2 separate regions of the Homo sapiens genome follow, and region 2 is linked to region 1. Evidence: fine-mapped expression QTL. A gene starts in region 1. The other region holds a variant in brackets. All regions are shown on one strand. Distances are between the middles of the regions.

The links. PIP is the estimated chance that this variant, and not a neighbour inherited with it, causes the effect.
Region 2: its variant is fine-mapped to the expression of C9orf152 in whole blood (GTEx, PIP 0.97). The same link has a PIP of 0.9 or more in monocytes, monocytes after LPS, monocytes after Pam3CSK4 and monocytes after R848.

Annotation. Positions count from the first base shown.
Region 1 is chr9:110,202,258-110,213,519 of GRCh38, reverse strand. C9orf152 (chromosome 9 open reading frame 152) reads left to right here and starts at 5,361. Exons shown (of 2, transcript NM_001012993.3): 1 at 5,361-6,133. The coding sequence starts at 5,941. RefSeq lists enhancers at 5,691-6,191, 6,192-6,692.
Region 2 is chr9:110,237,856-110,249,117 of GRCh38, reverse strand. It overlaps TXN (thioredoxin), which reads left to right. Exons shown (of 5, transcript NM_003329.4): 4 at 4,275-4,340; 5 at 4,899-5,308. The coding sequence ends at 4,961. Among named protein-coding and RNA genes, the nearest start is that of TXN, 13 kb to the left of the region's middle. The variant A/G (reference allele first, on the strand shown) is at 5,110.

The DNA of each region.
Region 1 (11,262 bases):
TGCTAAGAGAGGACATCTTAGGCCGGGTGTGGTGGCTCACGCCTGTAATCCCAGCACTTAGGCCGAGGCAGGTGGATCACCTGAGGTCAGGAGTTCAAGACCAGCCTGGCCAACATAGTGAAACCCCATCTCTACTAAAAATACAAAAATTAGCCGGGTGTGGTGCCACGCAACTGTAGTCCCAGCTATTGAGGAGGCTGAGGCAGGAGAATCGTTTGAACCCAGAAGGCTGAGCTTGCAGTGAGCTGAGATCACGCCACTTCACTCCAGGCTGGGTGACAGAGCAAGACTCCAGTCACTTAACTAACCCAAAGGCACACTTGACTCTAGAGAGCAAGGGGAGAGTAGCTAAGAATAGGGAAGATAAGACGCAAACCCGCATAGTCTAGCTTCATAGTTCATGCTCTCAATCCTTACACTGTACCACTTTTTAAAGCTGAGAACTGAAGGTGTTTACAAGTTAGCTAGGGGACATGTGGTTGCTGCCAAGGATGGAAATATAATGAAGATACGGTTGAGGTGAAAGTAAGTAAAGGAGTGTTCTAGAAGACAAAGAACAGCACATACCAAAGCTCCAAGGAGGAAAAGACATTGGTGGAATTCAAGAAATTCCTTCAGAGAAGGCTAAAGCGGTGAGAATGCTTTTCTCCCCTCTTTCACATCATGGCACACCTAGAAAATGACACTATTTGTATAGATCACTGGAATAAATGCAGAAGCTGTTTGTGGCTGGAGACACCCGGCCCAGGAGTTGTGGGTCTCAGTCATAGGCATATCTGGAACCCACTTATAGGAAATCTTGTCTAGAAAGTAGAGAGCAAGGGGAAAGTTGACACAGAGACTGGAAAGGTGAGACAGACCCAAGACAGGCACAACCCCCTGGGCCATAAGAAGGATTTGAATGCGAGTTTGAGTGTATTGGGAGGCCACTGGAGGATTTAACTGGGAGAGAAGCCATGAGATCCAATTTGCTTTGTGTCTTTTGGAGAACACTAACTGCTGTGAGGTCAAAGGATCAATGGATGAGAGGACAGGTGTGGAAGTGGGAGGGAGGGGACAGGTAAGAGGCTGTTGCAGTAGTCTTGGAAAAAGAAATGAGGACAGCATAGGCTAGGTGGATGACAGTGGAGGTGGAAAGAAATACATGGATTTCAGGTATCTTTTTTTTTTTTTTGCAATTTCTTCCTCCTAGTTCAAGTGATTCTCCAGCCTCAGCCTCCCAGTGGCTGGGATTACAGGTGCCTGCCACCACGTCTGGCTAATTTTTTGTATTTTTAGTAGAGACTGGGTTTCACCATGTTGGTCAGACTGGTCTTGAACTCCTGACTCAGATGATCCACTCACCTTGGCCTTCCAAAGTGCTGGGATAACTGGTGTGAGCCACCGCACCTGGCCGGATTTCAGGTATCTTTTAGAGCTTGTATCTCCCAGGCCTAGAGATGGTTTGGGTGTAAAAGGTGAAGGAGAAAGGATAGTAATGTTTCTTCTCTCACAGTGTTCTCATGAGAAATTAAATTTAATTTTGTCCAGGTTCCTCAAAAAAGCTAAACATAGAATTATTATATAGTCCAGCTTTTCCAAAAGAATTCACAGCAGGAATGCAAACACACACTTGTATATCAATGTTCATAGCAGCACTATTCCCAATAGCCAAAAGGTGGAAACAACCCAAATCTCCATCAACAGATGAATGGGTAAACAAACTGTGGCCTGTCCATACAATGGAATATTATTCAGCCATAAAAAGGAACGAAGTTCTGATGAATGTTTACAACATGAATGGGCCTTGACAACATGTTAAGTGAAATAAGCCAGTCCAATATATTACAAATATTGTATGATTCCACTTAGGTTGGGTACTAAAGTCATAGGGACAGGAAGTATAGTAGAGGTTGCCAGGGATGTAGGGAAGTGGGGAGCATTATTTAATGGGTACAGAGTTTCTGTTTGCGATGATGGATACGCTGGAAATAATGGTGATTGTTGCAGGGCACTGTGAATGGATGCAATGCCACTGAACTGTACACTGAAAAATTGTTAAAATAGTCAATTTCATTTACACAAATATTACCATAATGAAAAAATTGATCATTTACATAGAGTGATTAGCACATATCTGACCCACTGCAGTTTTAGATCAATGGTTATAACTATTGTTTTCATATGTCTAGCCTAGCCTCTCTTTTTTCAGAGAGGAATCTCCCTTACTCTTAAGGCTGAGAGCTTTGAATTTTTTAGTCTGTCTGCCCTGAAGCACTTCTTGACATCCTGAGTCCTTCTTCGTCATACTTGGCTCTCCTGTGGACACTGTCATTCATACACCTGCAAATCACAGTCCACTCCATAGGACAAGGTCCCCTCCTCATTGGAACCAGAGAGAAGAGAGCACAGGGAAGCCTCCATCCCTTGCAATCTTGCCCTCTTGATTCTCTAAGGCTAGATCACTAGGCTTCAGGGATGGGATAATCTCAGAGCGAACTTATTATAGGGGAGAGGAAAAGTGAAAGAACAGGGTAACTCAAGTTTTCCTGGAGTCTCCAGTGGAAAGAACTCCAAACTGAAGTTCTTCACAAGAACAGGATCCACCACTCCTGTCCTGCCCCCACTGTATACTGGGCTGACCCAGCCTGCTGCTCTCAAGCCAGCTCCCTAAGGGATTCCTTCTTCAAGTCTCTGAGTCTCTACCCACCAATGACTGGTCTTTGTATGGACAGGGTTATTGTCTGAGTCATTCTCTCTGGAGTGGTACCCCAGTTGTGAGTGATACCTGTTGCCACTCAAGTCTCACAGAATAGCTGGATCCCCTGGACAGGAGTGGACCTGGAGCCTCTGGTCTAAGTTATTTTACTGGAAGCTCCAGGGAGGGCTGTAGGGATGCTGGTTCCGGTAATGAACTAACCTGCTACATTAAGCACAGTCTTATCTCTCAACCAGAATGGGACATTTCATGTTCCATACAGTTTACATATATACAGAAAAACAAAATATTCCCTAGAATCACAAGACATCTTATTCCTACTCCAGCGTCTCCAGCCCTGAACAACTTTGAAGCTTATTTCCAGTTCCTCTGAAGGATATACCTGGATAATGAAAGTCACCCATTTAGTGGCAGCCACCCAGAACAAACTCCAGGCTTGATCATCTTTTTTCATTTATTTCTGAAGACTCCCTGGGATGAGATAGAGTTGCCAGTTTTTTCTTATACTATTGTTATTGTTATCACAGACCAAGGAAAGGAAAGTTTATTCAGTAAGTGCTATTGAAACAACTGGTCAATTATTTGGAGGAAAAAACCCCTAGATCCTTGCCTTATACCTAACACAACACCAAAATAAATTTCAAATGGATTAAAGATTTGAGTTTTAAAAGAAAGAGGAACTATATGAACTAAAAGAAGGAATTTAAGCTCCTAAAAGGCATTCAATCAGCAGTAGACAGCCTCAATTTACTTCTCATCAAAATATCCACAAACGCACCCATATAGAAAAAGACAAAAACTGTTAATACTAAAAGATGAAGGCTGACAAGTAAATGCGAAAATATAGTAGAAATTTCTACTGCCATTATTTCTCTCCTCCTCTTCTCTTCTCTTCTCTTCTCTTCTCTTCTCTTCTCTTCTCTTCTCTTTTCTTTCTGAGACAGGAGCTCACTCTGTTACCCAGGCTGAAGTACAGTGGTGCAATCATGGCTCATTTCAGCCTCGAGCTTCTGGGTTCAAGTGATCATCCCACCTCAGCCACCCGAGTAGCTCGGACTACAGGCATGTGCCACCATGCCTGGCTAATTTTTGTAGATACAGAGTTTCACTATGTTGCCCAGGCTGGTCCTGAACTCCAGGGCACAATCAATACACCCACCTCAGCCTCCCAAAGTGCTGGGATTACAGTTGTGAGCCATTGTGGCCAGCCTACTGCCATGATGTCTACTGCCATGATTTCATGGCAGGTGCAGCTGGTCCAGCATGGATGGGTTGCTCTTGCCTTCATGATAGAGTGATCTACCGATAAAAAGGTATGAGGAAGCTTTGGCTATCTCTCTCGGTATTTTTTTGAGACAGATTGAGCTCTAATCCAATGTGATTGCTGTACTTATAAAAAGGGGAAAATTGGGCACAGAGACACCCACATAGGAAGAACATCATATTAGGCCGGGTGTGGTGGCTCACGCCTGTAATCCCAGCACTTTGGGAGGCCAAGGCGGGCGGATCACAAGGTCAGGAGATCGAGACCACGGTGAAACCCTGTCTCTACGAAAAATACAAAAAATTAGCTGGGCGCGGTGGCGGGTGCCTGTAGTCCCAGCTACTCGGGAGGCTGAGGCAGGAGAATGATGCGAACCCGGGAGGCAGAGCTTGCAGTGAGCTGAGATTACGCCACTGCACTCCAGCCTGGGCGACAGAGTGAGACTCCCTCTCAAAAAAAAAATAAAATAAAAAAATAAAAAGGAAGAACATCATGTCAAGATAAAGGCAGAGATTAGGCAATGTTTTTGCAAGCCAAAGAATACCAGAGATTGCTAGCAAACCATCAGAAGCAAGGTGAGAGGCATGGAACAGATACTCTCACACAGCTCCAAGAAGAAACCAACCCTGCTCACACCTTGACTTTGGACTTCTAACCTCCAGAACTCTGAGACAATAATGTTTGTTGTTTAAGACATCCAGTTTGTGGGATTTCGTTATGGCAGCCCTAGCAAAACTAACATATACTACCCAGTGAAGATTTGCTCTCCATCTTCCACGGCTCCCCCACATCAAATGACTAGATCTTGTCTGGTTAATGTCCAAAATGTCTTGTAGGTTCAGGCTCTACTCTGTTTCCATTGCCTCTGTAGACATATTGGGTAATTGGGTAATCAGTAAGCACCGTGATAGGAGAAGATAGAAAGGGACTTAGTTGACCAAATGCAGCAAGGCTAGGTCAAAGCTGGTGTAAGAGGGAGAGGGTCTGGGATTCAAAAGCAATGTGGAAATGTTGAGGCTGGCAAGCAGAGAGTGAGGGGATGCCTAACTTACCACTTGGTTGGAGAATGCTGAGACGGCAGAGGCTGCACCAAATGTCCAAGGGGTAGGGCTGGCCCGAGGCCAAGATTCCCCTGGGCTCTGTCCCATGGCTGACTTTAGGGCTGAATTTTCACCTGGGGTGTGTGTTGGGGTCTGAGTGGAGATCTTGGGGAGATCTTTGCTACTGGGTTTCTTTAGGGTGTGGCCGCGGGGCACACATCCAGAGGCACCGACCTTGTGAAGCTCCCGAGGGTGTTCTTTGAACTACTGCAAACCCAACCGGCAGGTTTGCTGAAAAGTGGCCACGTTCCAGTCCAAAATGTGTGAGCAGAGCGCGAGCTTAGCACTCCCCAGCCCCAGTCCCAGCTCTGCCAGGAAAGGGGAGACTTCACCGTGGCACTGGGAATTGGATTCTAAACTTTAGGATCAAGCAATGGAAGGACCTGGAATAAGACACCTTCTTGACCCCCCTGAAGGGCTCTGAGCAGCTGGGCTTGCCTTTCTCTTTGCTCCCCCAGTCCTCCCCTTACTTCTCGGTCTCCCACTCCCCATCACTCCTTTCCCTGCCTCCTCCTGCCTGTCTCCATCTTCCTCCCTCTCTTTCTTCTCTCGCCCCATTAATCCCCGCTTGTCACTATCACCTCCTTCCTCCAGTCTTTCCCCCTTCGCTGCCCCTTCTTTCCTCTGACATTTCCTTCTCCTCTTACTGCCACTGTCTCCCACCTTTCTCCTCCCCCACATTTCTCCCTATCCCTACCTCCTCTTCCCCTTCATCTTTCTCCTTCCCCCTTATTTTTCTATCTCCTTCCTCAGTCCCACTCCTCTTTCCACCCTCCTTTTGCCCGTCACTTCTCCTTCTCCCTCACTGCCCCCTCCCTCTCTCTCCCCTCCCCAGGTCCTGCCCCACCCAGCTGTGTTTGCTTTTCTCCCGGATCCGGATGGAGGGGTTGCCCTGCCCGTGCCCAGCCCTGCCCCACTTCTGGCAGCTTAGGTCTCACTTAATGGCTGAGGGCTCCAGGACTCAGGCCCCTGGGAAAGGGCCCCCACTCAGCATCCAGTTCCTGCGAGCCCAGTATGAAGGCTTGAAGAGGCAGCAGAGGACCCAGGCCCACCTCCTGGTGCTTCCAAAAGGTAGGAATGGACAGGTGCTGGGGAAGGAGAGACTTACCATGGGAGACCTGAGTGGCAGAGCTGCAGGGAGGCAGAGCCAGGGCTTTGCCAGCCCTCCCTCCCAGTGGGGAAGAGCAGGGGAGGCGGGCTCAGGGCAGCTCTGCTCAGCTGTCCCACCTGCTAAGGGAGCCAGGGGCCTCAGCCAAGCACCTGGCTGCCAGCACTGTTCCTGGCCTCTGCTCTGATGTTCTAATCTTGCTAGACTGGTCAGCCTGGTGAGCCAGGCTTGGCCCCCCTGCTAGCCCAGGTATGGCGATAGGAGCTCTGCTTCCTGGCTGGGTCTAACTAAGGCACCTCCTACAAACCAGAGAAATTCACTCTGGAGGTAGAAGACATGGCGTTCCCAACAGCCTGGGAACTGTCTGGGCCAGAGGACGCCTAGGGCTCAGAGACCCATGAGGCATCCCAGGCTCATCCAGCCTCAAACATCAGGCAGGGAGGTGTGATTGGACACAGAAACCCCCTCATGGGGAGAAACCTCCTCCCTTTAGGAACTCAGATTTCATTCCAGGAGGGAGTTAGAGGCACAGGGCTCAGAAAGCAAGGGCATGTCAAATCCCAGCCCTTCCTCCTCTAACAGAGGAACAGGTTGAGGGAGAAGGGAAGATACCCTGAAAGGTCAAAGCTGGGCTCTGTGGGATTCTGTGGTTATTTGTAGAGTTCAGTAGACTCTTTGGGCTGCCCTTTGCCAGGCCAGACTGGGCAGGAATCAGGGGCCAGAGGGACCTCTCTGTCTAGGGCAGGAAGTGTGCTGCCTTTTGGGAACAAAAGTGGCACCTCTGAGCTGAAGGAGCCCATCTCCCATTACCTGGGCTGTTGCCAACCAATGGAATCCTCGTTCCTGGCAGGAGTGAACTGGCACAGCCAAACAGTCACCATCTCTGCAGGGCATAAACTGAAAGGTTCCTAAAGCTCTATCCCACCCTTGAGGGTATTTATTCATTCAGTTATTCAACAAACATTTATCAATTTAAATCCCTATCAAATGGAAACACAATGCTTAATACACCTGCAATTCAGACTCACAAATCTAATTGCTTAGTGGGGATGATCCAAAGACATCTCAAATTCAACATGCCCCCAGAGAATTCACTATACCCTGTGCTCGTCCTTTCTCCTGCTCTTGGTAACTCGGTACCCCCTTTCCCATCATTACTAGGTGCTAAATTATGGTTCATGCAAGGAGTGCCCAGGTGTGGCTTTCTCCGAGAAGACTTCTGACCTCCCAGCTAGGTCAGGGTCATTCAGGGCACTTTCAGCAGTTTGCAGTTCCACATTTTTTTTTTTTTGAGACAGATTCTCACTCTGTTGCCCAGGCTGGAGTGCAGTGGGGTGCAATCTCGGCTCACTGAAACCTCTGCCTCCCGGGTTCAGGCAATTCTCCCTGCCTCAGCCTCCTGAGTAGCTGGATTACAGGCACCTGCCACCATGCTCGGTTAATTTTTGTATTTTTTTTAGTAGAGATGGGGTTTCACCATGTTGGCCAGGCTGCTCTTGAACTCCTGACCTCAGGTGATCCACCCACCTCGACCTTCAAAAGTGCTGGGCGTGAACCACCATACTTGGCTGAGTTCCACATTCTTTATCTAACTGTGAGAGGCAGCATACTGTGTAATGGAGTGGTCATGTACTGGGTCTTGGAGCACAGCCTGAGTTTGAGTCCCAGCTCTGCCATTTACTTAATATGCAGCTTTAAACAAGTTACATAAATTTTCTGGGGCTCAGTTTCCTCACCTGTCAATTGGGAATAACTGTAGTACCCAAATCATAGGGTTATTGTAGGAATAAAATGAACTAATATGTATAAAGCTCATCAAGGCCTTATGCACTGACTGGCTGAGGACAAGATCACGTATGTCACATGTATCTAAGTAGGAAGGCCACTTGAAACACTAGCACTGAATGTGAAGGAGTAGGTAATTATCCAGGGAGAAATCAGAGTAAGGTGACAAAAATAAGGTGAAAATGGCACTAAGGAGGCAAAAGAGCAATTAATTGTCCCCTATACTTTAGCAACAGGATAGATGGTGGTATCTTTCCTTGAGAATACAGGAGAAAAAGGCTTTTTGTGGAGAAAAAGGCTTTTTGTAGAGAGAGATGAACTTGTTTTTGAATATACTGCATTGGAGATAGTTGCCTGTAGACCTTCCATCCAGCCTGGATCTCATTTGGGCTGGAGAGCTAGATTTGGGGTTATTCATCTATAGATGGTAGCTGAAGCCATGGGCATGGATAAAACTGTGGCAAATCCATGTGTAAATTGATAAGAAACTGGGATGAAAATTAGAGTTCTGGAATACTCAAATATTTAAGGAACAAGAGGAGGAAATGAAGCCAGGGAAGATGGAGAGAGCAGTCAAAATTTGAGGACAGGCATATCATTCAGCCATAAAAAGGAAAGAAATTCTGCCATACACTACAACATGGATAAAACTTGAGGACATTATGCTGAGTGAAGTCAGTCAGTCCCAAAAAGACAAATACTGTATAATCCCATTTACATGAGGTATGTAGAGTAGTCATATTTAAAGAGACAGAAGGAAAGCAGAATGGTGGTTGCCAGAGGCTGGGGCATGGGGAAGTGGGGCGTTATTGTTTAATGCTTATAGAGTGTCAGAGAAACTGAAGAATTCTGGAGATTGGTTCCACAATGTGAATGTACTGAACACTACTAAACTGTGCACTTAAAAATGGTTAAGATGGTACATTTTATGTTCTATGTATTTTACCACAATTAAACATATTTTAAGTGGTATAAGAAAATCAAGAGCAATTAATGTCATGAAGCCAAGCTGGTAGAGGGATTTTAGAGGACCGTGATCCTCAGTGCCCAGTGCAGCAAAAAGACCCAGGAAGAGAGAGTGAGCATTGAGACTGGGCTCCTACTAAAGCTAGAAGTCAATGTCTCAAGACATTGGGTTGCGTTTAGAAGCTCAGAAATTCTAGGAGCTGATCAATGAAAGGAAGGGCTCCGAAATTAGCTTTCTTCACCCTGTCTTAGCATTATGCGATGGATCCAGCTTCTGGAAATGCAGTTACAAGTAGCAGCGTGCCTTCCCTGATGCAACGTAAGTACCCAGGGGACCTTGAGCTACTTTCAGAAGTCTGTGGAGCCCCAATTACTCCCAGTGATTGGTGTCCAAAAGGAATATGCTTTTGTCACAGTCAGACACTGTGTGACTCGCCTCATGTAGAAAAAGGGATTAGGGTCGGGACTTATATCTGGGCTGGATGTTTTATATTACATTTCATTGAACATTCCTGGCAGCCTTGTAAGGTAGCTCCCTTTTTAAGATCTCCATTTATAGATGAGGAAATGGAGGCCTAGGGTCTCCTAGTGAGTCAGTGGTGAACTCAGGACCAGACCTCATGTCTTCCTGACTCTGGCTTGATGAGAGAGGTTCCACCAAAGGTCTCAGGCAGTTAGGGTGAATTTCGATTCTTCTTTCCTCCCTGAGTCTCTCTACCACTCTCTTCGCTCTTCTCTCCACCCGCTTCCTTCATCCCCACTGAAGAGAGAAATCAAGGAGGGGCTCAAAATACCCCTTCTCCAACTTGTATCTTCTGGCAAAGTGAATCAAGGGTGGAGAATGAAGAAGGTATTATAGATAACGAGTACATTTCCTTCCAGTCCCTGACTTACCAAAACCAAAACAAAACAGATAAAAAACATGATACGAAATTTCCCTGTACTCTTCAGTCAATTACCCTAATTCTCTTTCTCTTGTACAGTGAAGGGCAGGCACCATCCCAAGATGTGCAGGGTACTGCCACAGAAGGCTCATGGTGATTCTCAGCAGAGGCTGCTCTGGGGTGGGGTCCCTGTGTATCTCCCAGCCTAACTCTTTTTCCTTTCCTCTGAACCACAGGCTGGGACTGACAGCTGAACAGGCCTGTCCACCTTCAGTCCTTTCCTTCTAAACTAATGCTAGGATACCAGTTTCTAGGTTCTCCCATTGTGTCTCCCTCCTTCCTTGTTCTCAAATAAGTACATAACATGTTGGATATTTATAAAAGTTTCCTTTGGCTGGCCGCGGTGGCTCACGCCTGTAATCCAAGCACTTTGGGAGGCCGAGGCGGGCGGATCACAAGGTCAGGAAATCGAGACCATCCTGGCTAACACAGTGAAACCCCGTCTCTACTAAAAATACAAAAAAAAGTAGCTGGGCGTGGTGGCTGGCACCTATAGACCCAGCTACTCGGGAGGCTGAGGCAGGAGAATCGCTTGAACCCGGGATGCAGAGGGCGGAGGTTGCAGTGAGCCAAGATCGCGCCATTGCACTCCAGCCTGGGTGACAGAGCAAGACTCCATCTCAAAAAAAAAAAAAAAAAAAAAGTGTTTTCTTCATTTCATGCTGGAAAATAATACTAAGGAATTAACCAGTTACAAAGCCGGAACAAATCTTGAGTCACACTAGAGTTAGTGTTGACAGGAGAGTAATTGTTGGCTGAGATGGCTGCAGCTGGTCTTCTGTTTCTTTGGGATCCCTGAATTGGAGCTCAGGGGCTTCTTTCTGACTTTATTCTTCCAACATCATCTCCCCACTCTTGCTCTGCACATTGTCACCTCCAGGGCCTCCTGTGATAACAGGTGCCGGAACAGATAAGTGAACCTAAGTGACACCTCTGAGGAGCTCCAAGCTGGTCACACACCTGCTTTCTATAAGGAAAATGCCTTTCAGTCATTCCAATACCTCTCACTGCCACCAAGAGTTAACAATGAACTGTCATATTCCACTAGGTGGTTTAAAAAAAAGTCCCCAAGAAAGAAAAGAGACATTGGTCTGCCTCTTTCACCCTAAAGCCAGTTCTGAGGAGCCGTAAATGCTGCAGATGTCCTCCCAGAGCAGTGCCTGTGGACTAGGAGAAGGATAATGATTGGTTCTCTAAAGGGAGCTGCTTCAAAACACAACTCCTCCCTCTTCTGCCTTGGGTGGTAAACTCACTATCAGAATCCCAGGACACAGCCGAGCGCAGTGGCTCACGCCTGTAATCCCAACACTTTGGGAGTCTGAGGCGGGCGGATCACTTGAGGTCAGGAGTTCAAGACCAGCCTGGCCAACATGGTGAAAATCATGTCTCTACTAAAA
Region 2 (11,262 bases), 36 kb before region 1:
GTTCACTCTGTCACCTGGGGTGGAGTGCAGTGGCATGATCTCGGCTCACTGCAACCTCTGCCTCCCGGGTTTAAGCAATCCTCTGTCTCAGCCTCCTGGGTAGCTGGGATTACAGGCATGCACCACCATGCCTGGCTAATTTTGTATTTTTACAAAATTAAAACCCCAGTAGAGACGGGGTTTCACCATGTTGGTCAGGCTGGTCTCGAACTCCTGACTTCAGGTGATCCACCCACCTCGGCCTCCCAAAGTGCTGGGATTATCCACCACGCCCGGCCTTGATTTTTATTTGAAAGCAATAATAGGTGCCAGATGCCATGATAAGCCCTTTGCATGCACTATGTCATTTAATCCTCACGATAACTATACGAGTATTTTTTATTAGCACCCTCATTGAACAGGTAATGGCACTGCAGCACAGAAGGTAAAGTCAGTCTCTTGAGGCAGACCAATGCACCATACTGTACTGAGGACAGGTCTTCTTACTGCCTTTAGGAAGTACAGTCATGCATCACTTAATGATGAGGATACTTTCTGAGAAATGTTAGGCAATTTTGTTGTGCACACATAGAGTGTACTTACACAACCTAGATGGCATAGCCTCCTGTACACCTAGGCTATGTGGTAAAGCCTGTTGCTCCTAGGCCACAAACAGGTAAGGCATGTTACTGTACTGAATACTGTAGGCAGTTATAACACAACAGTAAGTATTTGTGTATCTAAACATAGAAAAGGTATGGTGAAAACATGATATGAAAGATTAAAAAATGGTATGCCTTTATAAGGTACTTGCCATAAACGGGACTTGCAGGACTGAGAGGTGCTCTGGGCGAGTCAGTGAGTGGGTGGTGAGTGAATGTGAAGGCCTAGAACCTGTAGACGTTATAAACACTGTATGCTTACAAATTTTATTTTTAAAATTTCTTTTTTCAGCAATAAATTTATTGTAACTTTTTTACTTTATAGTTTTTTTATTTTTTTAACTCTTTAACTCTTGTAATAACACTTAGCTTAAAACACGAATGCATTGTACAGCTCTACAAAAATATTTTCTTTATATCCTTAGTCTATAAGCTTTTTTTAAAAAGACTTTTTAAACTTTTTGTTACAAACTAAGATTCAAACACATACATTAGCCTAGACCAACACAGGGTCAGGATCATCAGTATCACTGTCTCCCATCCCCACATCTTGTCTCACAGAAAGGTCTTCAGGGACAGTAACATGCATGGACCTTTCATCTCCTATGATAACAGTGCCTTCTCCTGGAATGCTTCCTGAAGGGCCTGCCTGAGCCTGTTGTATAGTAACTGTCTTTTTAAAAAAATAAGTAGGAGTACACTCTAAATTAATAATGAAATTAAAGTAAATACAAAAACCAGTAACGTGGGTGTTTATTATCAAGTAGTATATACTGTCCATAATTGTAGTGATATGCTTTTTTAAGTGAAAGCAAGTTTATTAAGAAAGTAAAGGAACAAAAGAATGGCTATTCCGCAGGTAAAGCAGTCTGTAGTGGTATACTTTGTATGTAATTGCAGCGCAGATTTGTTTGCACCAGCTAATGCGATGGGCTATGACATTAACCCATCACTAGGTGAGAGGAATTTTTCAACTTCATTATAATCTTATGGGACCACCACATATATGCAATCTGTTGTCGATCTAAATGTTATATGGTGCATTACTATAGGTGTGCAAAGCACTCGAGGACTTCCGTATGACAGAGCTCCTCCTTCATGTCTGCTTGGTGCACCCTGATCACCCTGAATGTATCTTTTTTTTTTTTTTTTTTGAGACAGAGTCTCACTCTGTCACCCAGGCTGGAGTGCAGTGGTACCATCTCTGCTCACTGCAACCTCCACCTCCCGGGTTCAAGCGATTCTTCTGCCTCAGCCTCCTGAGTAGCTGGGACTACAGGCAGCCGCTACCACACCAGGCTAAATTTCAACTTTTTAGTAGAGACAGCATTTTGCCATGTTGGCCAGGCTGGTCTCGAACTCCTCACCTCAAGTGATCCACCCGTCTTGGCCTCCCAAAGTGCTGGGATTAGAGGCATGAGCTACCGTGCCTGGCCTGAAAGTGTCTTTTAAAACCTTGAAGTGACCCTCTGACAAACTGAGGAACTTTAACTTTGCCTCCATAGATTGATAGAAAAGTATGAGTAGTAGCCCTTTTGAAAATGATAGACCAACCTTATTTCTCTGACAGCCAACAGGGTTATGATACTTATTTTATAAATGGTAACCTCCCTCTGACCCTTACTTGGAGTGAGTTTTCAATAGTATGCATTCAATAAACATTCACCATTTTTATTCCAGCCATTACTGTCCTTGTGCCTCTTACTGGAACCTGTACTTTCATGCTCAGCAGGTGTCCAGCATTAAAAGAAAAAGTAAAGATTACCTAGAAAGAACTCCTCAACAGTAGTGCCACCCACCATCCTAGAGGTCGTCATAGTGTTTGTAGCTGGCCTTTCTTCCCCTTGAGAATTCTCCGTTGGTTTCCGTGATTTGGTTATCAACAGTCCTGCCTGCTCGCTTGCTGTCCTGTGTAGCTTTTGCTGCTTAGGTGCTGAGTGGTTCTATATTTCTTTCCCAGTCCTCTTTTGAGTGCCTGGCTGACATTTTCAATCTCTATTGGGCTCCAAACCAAACCAGTTTCGTGGTATTGTCCTCCAAACCTTGCCCTCTTATAGCATGAACAATGTGTTGAGCATGGGGTATTATAAGAGTTCTCATTTAGCATTCCACAGTTGAGGAATGTGTGTTACTTCAATTACCTTTGAGCTGTAGAAAAATCTTTAGCTGTGGTAACAGCCACTTCTAGGAGAGGAGAAAATACGGATCAACTAGCCCAATTTGCGATGTTAGGAATTTGTCGATTTTCTTAGTAGGATGGCTTTCAAAGGTTAGAGCATCAGAGTCACCTGAAGCCCGACTTTAACTGTAATGGTTTAAGATGGGGTTGATGGGGAAACTTGTAGTACCCCTCAGGTAATTCTGATACTGCAGCAAGGTTTGAGAATTCACAAAGTCTTTTTATTTTTCCTCCCGAGATAGTCTCATTCTGTCGCCCAGGCTGGAATACAGTGGCATGATCTCAGCTCACTGCAACCTCCGCCTCCCAGGTTCAAGCAATTGTCCTGTCTCAACCTCCTGAGTAGCTGGGATGACAGATGTGTGCCACCACACCTGGCTAATTTTTGTATTTTTAGTAGAGATGGGGTTTCTCCGTGTTAGCCAGGCTAGTCTCGAACTCCTGACCTCAGGTGACCCACCGGCCTTGGCCTCACAAATCAGTTTTTAATTAAAAATAAGCAGGAGGCTGAGTGTGGTGGCTCACACCTGTAATCCTAGCACTTTGGGAGCCCGAGGAAGGTGGATCACTTGAGCTCATGAGTTTGAGACCAGCCTGGGCAACATGGAGAGACCTTGTCCCTATAAAAAAAAAAAAAAAAAAATATATATATATATATATATATATATATATATATATAGTGTGTGTGTGTGTGTATATATATACACACACACACACAAAATTAGCCAGGTGTGGTGGCGTGTGCCTGTAGTCCCAGCTACTGGGGAGGCTGAGGAGGGAGGATGGCTTGAGTCTGGGAAGTGGAGATTGCAGTGAGCTGAGACTATGCCCCTGCATTCCATCCAGCCTGGGTGACACAGCCAGACCCTGTCTCAAAAATAATAATAATCAGTAAACCCAGTGTGGGGTTATTCCTTTAGATTACTATTATTTTGTTCTTGAACAATTGATTTTTATTTTTTTAGACTTTTTAGCCTTTATATAATCATTCTGTGTACTCTGCCTTCATAATAAAACTGGAAAAATTATGAGCAAGAAATAAGAGGTACTAGTTCTGAGGAATAGTTAAGATTATCATACTGAGTCCAATTGTAGCAGAATTTTTTGTTGCTTCTTTGTATGATACTTAAAATAGTTGAAAATTTGATTGGATTAAAGAGCATATTGGATCGCTGGAGTATCTGATGCTAGTAACATTCTGAACATTCTGCCTGTTAATGTGCCCGTCAAAGGAAGTAAATATTAATAAAACTTCTTCATTGAGAATATAACCGGTTTGGCTTTTGTAATGCCATTATATTCATTATATTAATTTTCATATGCTGAAAAATGTCCTCATGCGGAAATGTGGGGTACATGACAGGGAAAAGTTTCTGGTTTTGGATTACTTCTGTCAAAGCTCAGTACTCGCAGTCTTGTATTTAATCCTCTCCCTTTGCTACTTTCCCTACCAGGATGTTGCTTCAGAGTGTGAAGTCAAATGCATGCCAACATTCCAGTTTTTTAAGAAGGGACAAAAGGTACGTACATCTGACCTTTAAAACTCTAACTGGGCAATAGGAAACCCAGTATAAGTGAATAAATCACTGGAGTGATGTTCCCTTTAAAGATTGAGGCATATCACCAAGTTCTGCTTTTAAGAATTTTTAAATATGCCAAAATTCATTGGCTTAAGTACATAATGTGACAGCTAACTGAAAATCAATCTTTCCTAGAACTAGTCCTATTTATATCATAAAGCACATAGAATTTCTTAGACTTGGGCAGTTCATTTGTTGTTAAGTATTGTGTAAAAGAAAATTTGTACTTGAGCCTTTTGACTTTTCTCTTGATATTTTTTCTTTGTTTATAACTTAAATGAACTGTATGTTATTCAGGGAAGTTTACTTTAAATAAGATTATACTTCTTTTTCCCTCCACCCCTATTCTTCCTTCATTCTATGCTGAATACATATTTATACATATGTATATATATACATATGTATATGTATATATATAAATACATATTTATACATATTTTATGTATAAAACAGTGCTACAGTGCTACGTCTAATGTCAATTCAATATTCTCTTAACAGGTGGGTGAATTTTCTGGAGCCAATAAGGAAAAGCTTGAAGCCACCATTAATGAATTAGTCTAATCATGTTTTCTGAAAATATAACCAGCCATTGGCTATTTAAAACTTGTAATTTTTTTAATTTACAAAAATATAAAATATGAAGACATAAACCCAGTTGCCATCTGCGTGACAATAAAACATTAATGCTAACACTTTTTAAAACCGTCTC[A/G]TGTCTGAATAGCTTTCAAAATAAATGTGAAATGGTCATTTAATGTATTTTCCTATATTCTCAATCACTTTTTAGTAACCTTGTAGGCCACTGATTATTTTAAGATTTTAAAAATTATTATTGCTACCTTAATGTATTGCTACAAAAATCTCTTGTTGGGGGCAATGCAGGTAATAAAGTAGTATGTTGTTATTTGTTATCTTTTGACAGAGAAAATAGCATTCTCTGTTTTAGCAGGTGAATCCTCTATGCTCTCCAAAAGATCAGCATGACCAAAATTGATGTCCACTCATGAAGGACTTGTTCGTTTTGTTTGTTTGTTTTGCCACGAGGATCGGATCTTGATTCTCCTCGAAGTATCTGAGAAAGTCTAGTTGTATAGGCCAGACATAGGTTCTGTCTTGAGTGGTAAAAGTTGTGGGAAATTATTACTTATATCATTCAAAGAACATTGTTTCTTGTGTTCTAAGCACAGTAAGGGGTTGGGGGTTTGAAGAAACTTTTTGAGTTTACATAATAATGAAGAGCAGAATTATCATATGCCAGGTATCATCTTTCTATTAATTCACTTAATCTTTGTAACAATCCTATTAGATATAGACACTATAATCCCCATTTACCTGTGAGGAAACAGACAAAGGGTGGTAATTTCCCCAGCATCACAACTAGTCATTGGAGGAGCTGGGATTTGAACCAAAGAAGTCTGGTACCAGAATATGTGCCTTTAACTACTACATTGCCCTCAGTGCAACAATCTGAGTAAGCAGGAAAATGATGGGCCCTTAGTTGAGTTTCTTTCCTCATGTGAAATTAGGATGCCAAACTTAGATGATCTCTCAAAATACTAATGGAATGCCTGTTATGTGCCAGGCATCATGCTAGGCTTGGGATAAAGCTGTGACTAAGACACCCTCATCCTCATACAGCTTACATTCTAGAAGCAGAGACAAACAGGTGAATAATAGACTGGTATATTCTACAAGGCAAAACCAAAAACTGGGCGCAGTAATGAGAAGAATAGGGGAACCAGCTGTGCATCAGGTGGTTGGACCTGGGTTCTTTGAGGTGACTGTAAACAGAGCTGTTGGATAAAAAGTACTCCAACCTGCTGAGAGCCAGGGAATCAGCTTTCAAGCAGAGAGAATGACAGACACAAAGGCTTGAGTCAAGAAAGAGCTTGGTACCTTGTAGAATCATCAGAGGAGCATGAAATAAAGCTCGATAGAGTGGCAGGGCCAGGTCAGCCAGGGCGTTATTTGTTCTAGAACGGATGAGAAACCATCGAAGGGTAAGTCAGGGTACATGCTTTGTTAACAAGTTATTTTGGCACCTGTATAGAAAACGGAAACTAAAAAGTGGAAAACCAGTTAGGCTTTTTTGTTTGTTTTTTGAGATGGAGTTTCGCTCTTGTCAGCCAGGCTGGAGTGCAATGGCGCAATCTCAGCTCACTGCAACCTCCGCCTCCCAGGGTCAAGCCATTCTCCTGCCTCAGCCTCCTGAGTAGCTGGGATTACAGGCACCCGCCACCATGCCCAGCTAATTTTTGTATTTTTAGTAGAGATGAGGTTTCACCATGTTGACCAAGATGGTCTCGAACTCCTGACCTCAGGTGATCCACCCACCTCAGCCTCCCAAAGTGCTGGGATTACAGGCGTGAGCCACTGTGCCCGGCCCCAGTTAGGCTTTTGCAATTACCTAGATCAGAGATAATGATAGCTGTGACTAGGAGGACAGTGGGGAAGTGACAGAGATGGAACAAAGCCTAAGGGCCTGTGAGAGGAAGACCCAGGAGTGAATCTCAGGTTTCTGGCAGAAGCCCTGGGTGTCGGGGTATGATGTGATGTCATGAGTGAGGTGAGGATGGGAGGGAGAAAGGGGTGGTGGTGAGGGAGTCAGTCTCTGGCCCTTCTGAGTTGGGTGCTTCTGAGGTGCACATCCCACTGAAGGTGCTGTGCAGGCTGTTGGGTACCTAGTTGAGAGCTCCAAGGACAGGTCTGGACTGGGATAGAAATTTGCAAGACATTGTCATGTAGATGGCACTTATAAACAAACATGACATCACCCAGGAAGAGTCCAGAGTGAAGAGGGCTCAAGATAGCCTGAAGGACTCAATATTTGGAGATCAAGTAGAATAGGAACCAACAAAGGAGACTGAAGGGTGGCCAGAGGGGAAAGACAAAAACCAGAAGAGGGTTTTATCCTGGAAGAACAGAGGAGAACATTTCAAAAAGGAAGGAGTATCATTTACCAAATTCCCTTGGAGCTAAGAAAGGTAAGGTTGAGAAAACAAAATGGAGGTTGGTGATTGCAACACAAAATTCCTATGGAGTGATGGGGAAGGAAGCCAGATTGGAGGGAACAGAAATCACACTTCTCATATCTGTCAAGCAATCCGGCCACCTCTGCCTCCCAAAGTGCTGGGATTATAGGCATGAGCCACTGTGCCTGGCCCAAACTTGTAGTTATAAAATGAATAAGTTCTGGGGAGCTAATGTGCGCCATGGTTACTATAGTTAATAATACCGTATTGTTCACTTGAAATTTGCTAAGAGTAGGTCTTAAGTGTGCTCACCCCACCCTCCACACACACACACACAAATGGTAACTGTGGTGATAGATATGTTAAGTAATGTGATTACTACACAGTGCATTCATATATCAAATAATTACATTGTACACCTTAAATATAAGCAATTATTGTCAATTATGCCTCAATAAAGCTAGAAGTTAGAAAAAAAAAAAAAAGAATAGATTCAGACCACAATAGGAGAGATTGGTGTTGGTTATGTCTTTCCTCCACCATAACCAGTGGGATGAAAGTGAGCGCAAGGTTAGAGAGCATTGTCGATTTAGGGATGGGAAGATGGCATTTCCATCTGATAGTTTCTGTTTTCCAAGCAGGCAGTTTTGAGGAGAAGGTATGAAATTGTTATCTTCACAGTGGCAAAGCAAAGCATGGTTTCTGGGCGTAGTTGAGTGTCTGCATGAGGTTTGTTAGGACCTCAGAGCCCTGCTGTGTGTGCAGGCAACTGAAGGTGGAGAGTTGAAGCCGGAGCAGGATTGGGTCTTTGTAGTTGAGTCCAGTAGTGAGTGGGGATGCAGAGAAGCTGACAGTACTTTTGAGGGATTGATTATACTGATGCAGTATAGAATCAAGGCTGGAGAAGTAGAGAGGAGAAGCCAAGAAGAGGCTGGTGAGCCACAGAAAAAGGAGTGTCTAAGGATTAGAGGTCTTGACAAGGTCAAAGAAGGCTGGCAGTGGGAGTGACTGAGCAAGCAAACTTTAAGAAGATGAGAGGTGGTAAGCAGAGTGAGATTTAAAAAACAGATTTGAGAAACAAATTTCCAGAGAAGACAAAGACTAGGGTGACCATGAGAAGGAGGTGAAGTGGGGTAGAGGAAGATTGGAACTCAGCAGGTCAAGGATTTGAGGCCAGGAACATACATGGGTTTCAGGGAAAGAAAATGGGAATAGGGATGGAAAGAGAAGTCTGTGAGGTGAACCATCTTTAGTGAGTGAGGAGGTTGATAGCAGATGGCAGCAGTAAGGAAGGTAGGAAGTTGGTACAACTTCATGAATGAGTTTCAGAGTAGTAGGAGATTTTGCAAGAAGGAGAAGTGGTTTGGAAGGGGCCTTAGGTGGGGAGGCAAGCAAAAAATCCAGTCACCTCCTGACTTGGGTATGTGGAGTGTAAAGTGTAGGGGAGGGGGAGCCCTTAGGATATTTCTGTTAAGGAAGGAGTTGATGTTCCAAGAACACATTAAAGATACAGAAACGGTTCCTGATCCAAAGCAAACTTCCAGCAGTTACTGTGAAAGGGATGGGGAGGGAGGGTTTGTTCAGGTTAAGGGCATGGGTCTAAATTTTGGCAGCACTTAGAATCAACTAGGGAGCTTTCCAAAAACAAAAGTGATGTTGGGATTCCAGTCCCAGAGATTTTGCTGTAAATGGGCTTGGGTGTTGCCTGGACACTATCTGATGTGCATTCAAAGTTGAGAACCAGCAGTTTAAGGGATATACAATATAGCCAGGAGATGATGGGTGACCAGCTGATCACCCATCTCTGGCAGTGATTGTGGTCAACACAATGAAATTCATTGATAGTCTCTTAGCATGAGATGGCAAACATCCTAATTGTTGCAGAAGGTAGTTAACAGATGCTTTTTATTTCTTGATTCGAAAGCAGTTTAAGAGACGAACATAAATATCATGGTGTTTCTTCTCATTCATATCGTTTCATAGCTGTTTACTGCCAACCTCCAAAAAATTCACAGATGCTAAACTTTGTTGCTTTGTTATGGAACAAGTGTTTAGAGTAGATGCTTTATAACTTGAATATATTATTACCTATTTAAAATAGTAAAGATATTAGAGTTAACTAAAGATCATACTTTATAAAAAAAATCTCAGTAACTGCACAGCACAATTCAATGTCATAAATTCTATTGTCCCCAAAGTGGATTACTTATATTAATAAATCTAGAAATATTAGTGAGCACTTTTTACTTGTCAATGCATAAAGTAATGAAGGTAAATATAGGATTTATAGTTCCGTAGAATATAGACTAACTAGTCATTAAAATAAGGCAAATATTGGCTGGGTGTGGTGGCTCACACCTGTAATCCCAGCACTTTAGGGGGCCAAGGCGGGGAGATCACCTGAGGTCAGGAGTTCGAGACCAGCCTGACCAACATGGTGAAACCCTGTCTCTACTAAAAATACAAAAATTAGCCGGGCTTGGTGGTGGGCACCTGTAATCCCAGCTACTCAGGAGGCTGAGGCAAAAGAACTGCTTGAACCCAGGAGGCGGAGGTTGCAGTGAGCCGAGACCGAGATTGCACCACTGCACTTCAGCCTAGGCGACAGAGTGAGACTCTGTCTCAAAAAGAAGAGAAGAGAAGAGACAAGGAAGGAAGGGGAGGCAAGGGGAGGGGAGGGGAGGGGAGGGCAGGGCACAGCAATGGAGGGGAGGGGAGAGGAGGGGCAAAAAGAGTATTCTGTTACATGAATACTGCAAAATGTATGGTATAGCACACTACCCTAGAGTTGTTCGTGGTCATCCAGAAGAAGCATGAGCTTAATGGCATGGCAGTTACTTTGGAGGAAGGCCAGGAATCCAACAGCTAGAATTTGAAGCAGAGCACCAGATGAAGCTGCAACGGAAGGTTGGAGCCTTGAACGCCTTGGAAATAATGTGGTCTCTTGTTCCCTGCATCGCAATGTGTTTTATGTCATGGCACACAAAGAAAACAATATTTGAACCCCCCACTGGGTTACAGTGGAAAGGATTTGGGAACATCTGTATGTGGCTTAGTGAAAAAATGACATTTTTACTTTAAACCATTTTAACACAAAAACCAAATGGAAACTATTACAGAGACTGTTAACTCCTGAATTTGTATAAAACTTCCACAAAAATATCTTACCTAATTTTTTAGTGTGAAACTTCAAGGTCATTTTCATGAATGTAACTTCTCTAAAAATGTTTAATTGTGAAATACAGAAGAATATATAAAACACATGCACAATTTTAGAAATATCAACAAAATGGCTAGCTGTGTAGTGATCGCCCAGGTTATGAAACAGAACATTGCCAATATCTTAAAAGTCCCCAGTGTATACCTATCATACCTTCTTCCTCCACCTGCCCAGAGATAACCCCATATGGCTCTTGTGATAATTATACCCTTGCTTCTTGCTTTTTTCTTTCTTTCTTTTATTTTTTTCCTGGAGACGGAGTTGCACTCCTGTCGCCCAGGCTGAAATGCAATGGCACGATCTCGGCTCACCACAACCTCTGCCTCCTGAATTCAAGCGATTCTCCTGCCTCAGCCTCCTGAATAGCTGGGATTACAGGCATGTGCCACCATGCCCAGCTAATTTTGTATTTTTAGTACAGACAGGGTTTCATCATGTTGGTCAGGCTGGTCTCGAACTCCTGACCTCAGGTGATCCACCTGCCTTGGCCTCCCAAAGTGCTGGAATTACAGGCGTGAGCCACCACACCTGGCCCATATTTGTGTATCCTAAACAAGACAATTCACCTGGTTTTGAATGCTATGTAAGTGGTATCGTCCTGTGATCTGCTTCTTGCACTCAACACCATGCTTGTGAGTGTCACTGTGTTAATGTGCATAATTGTAGTTCATTT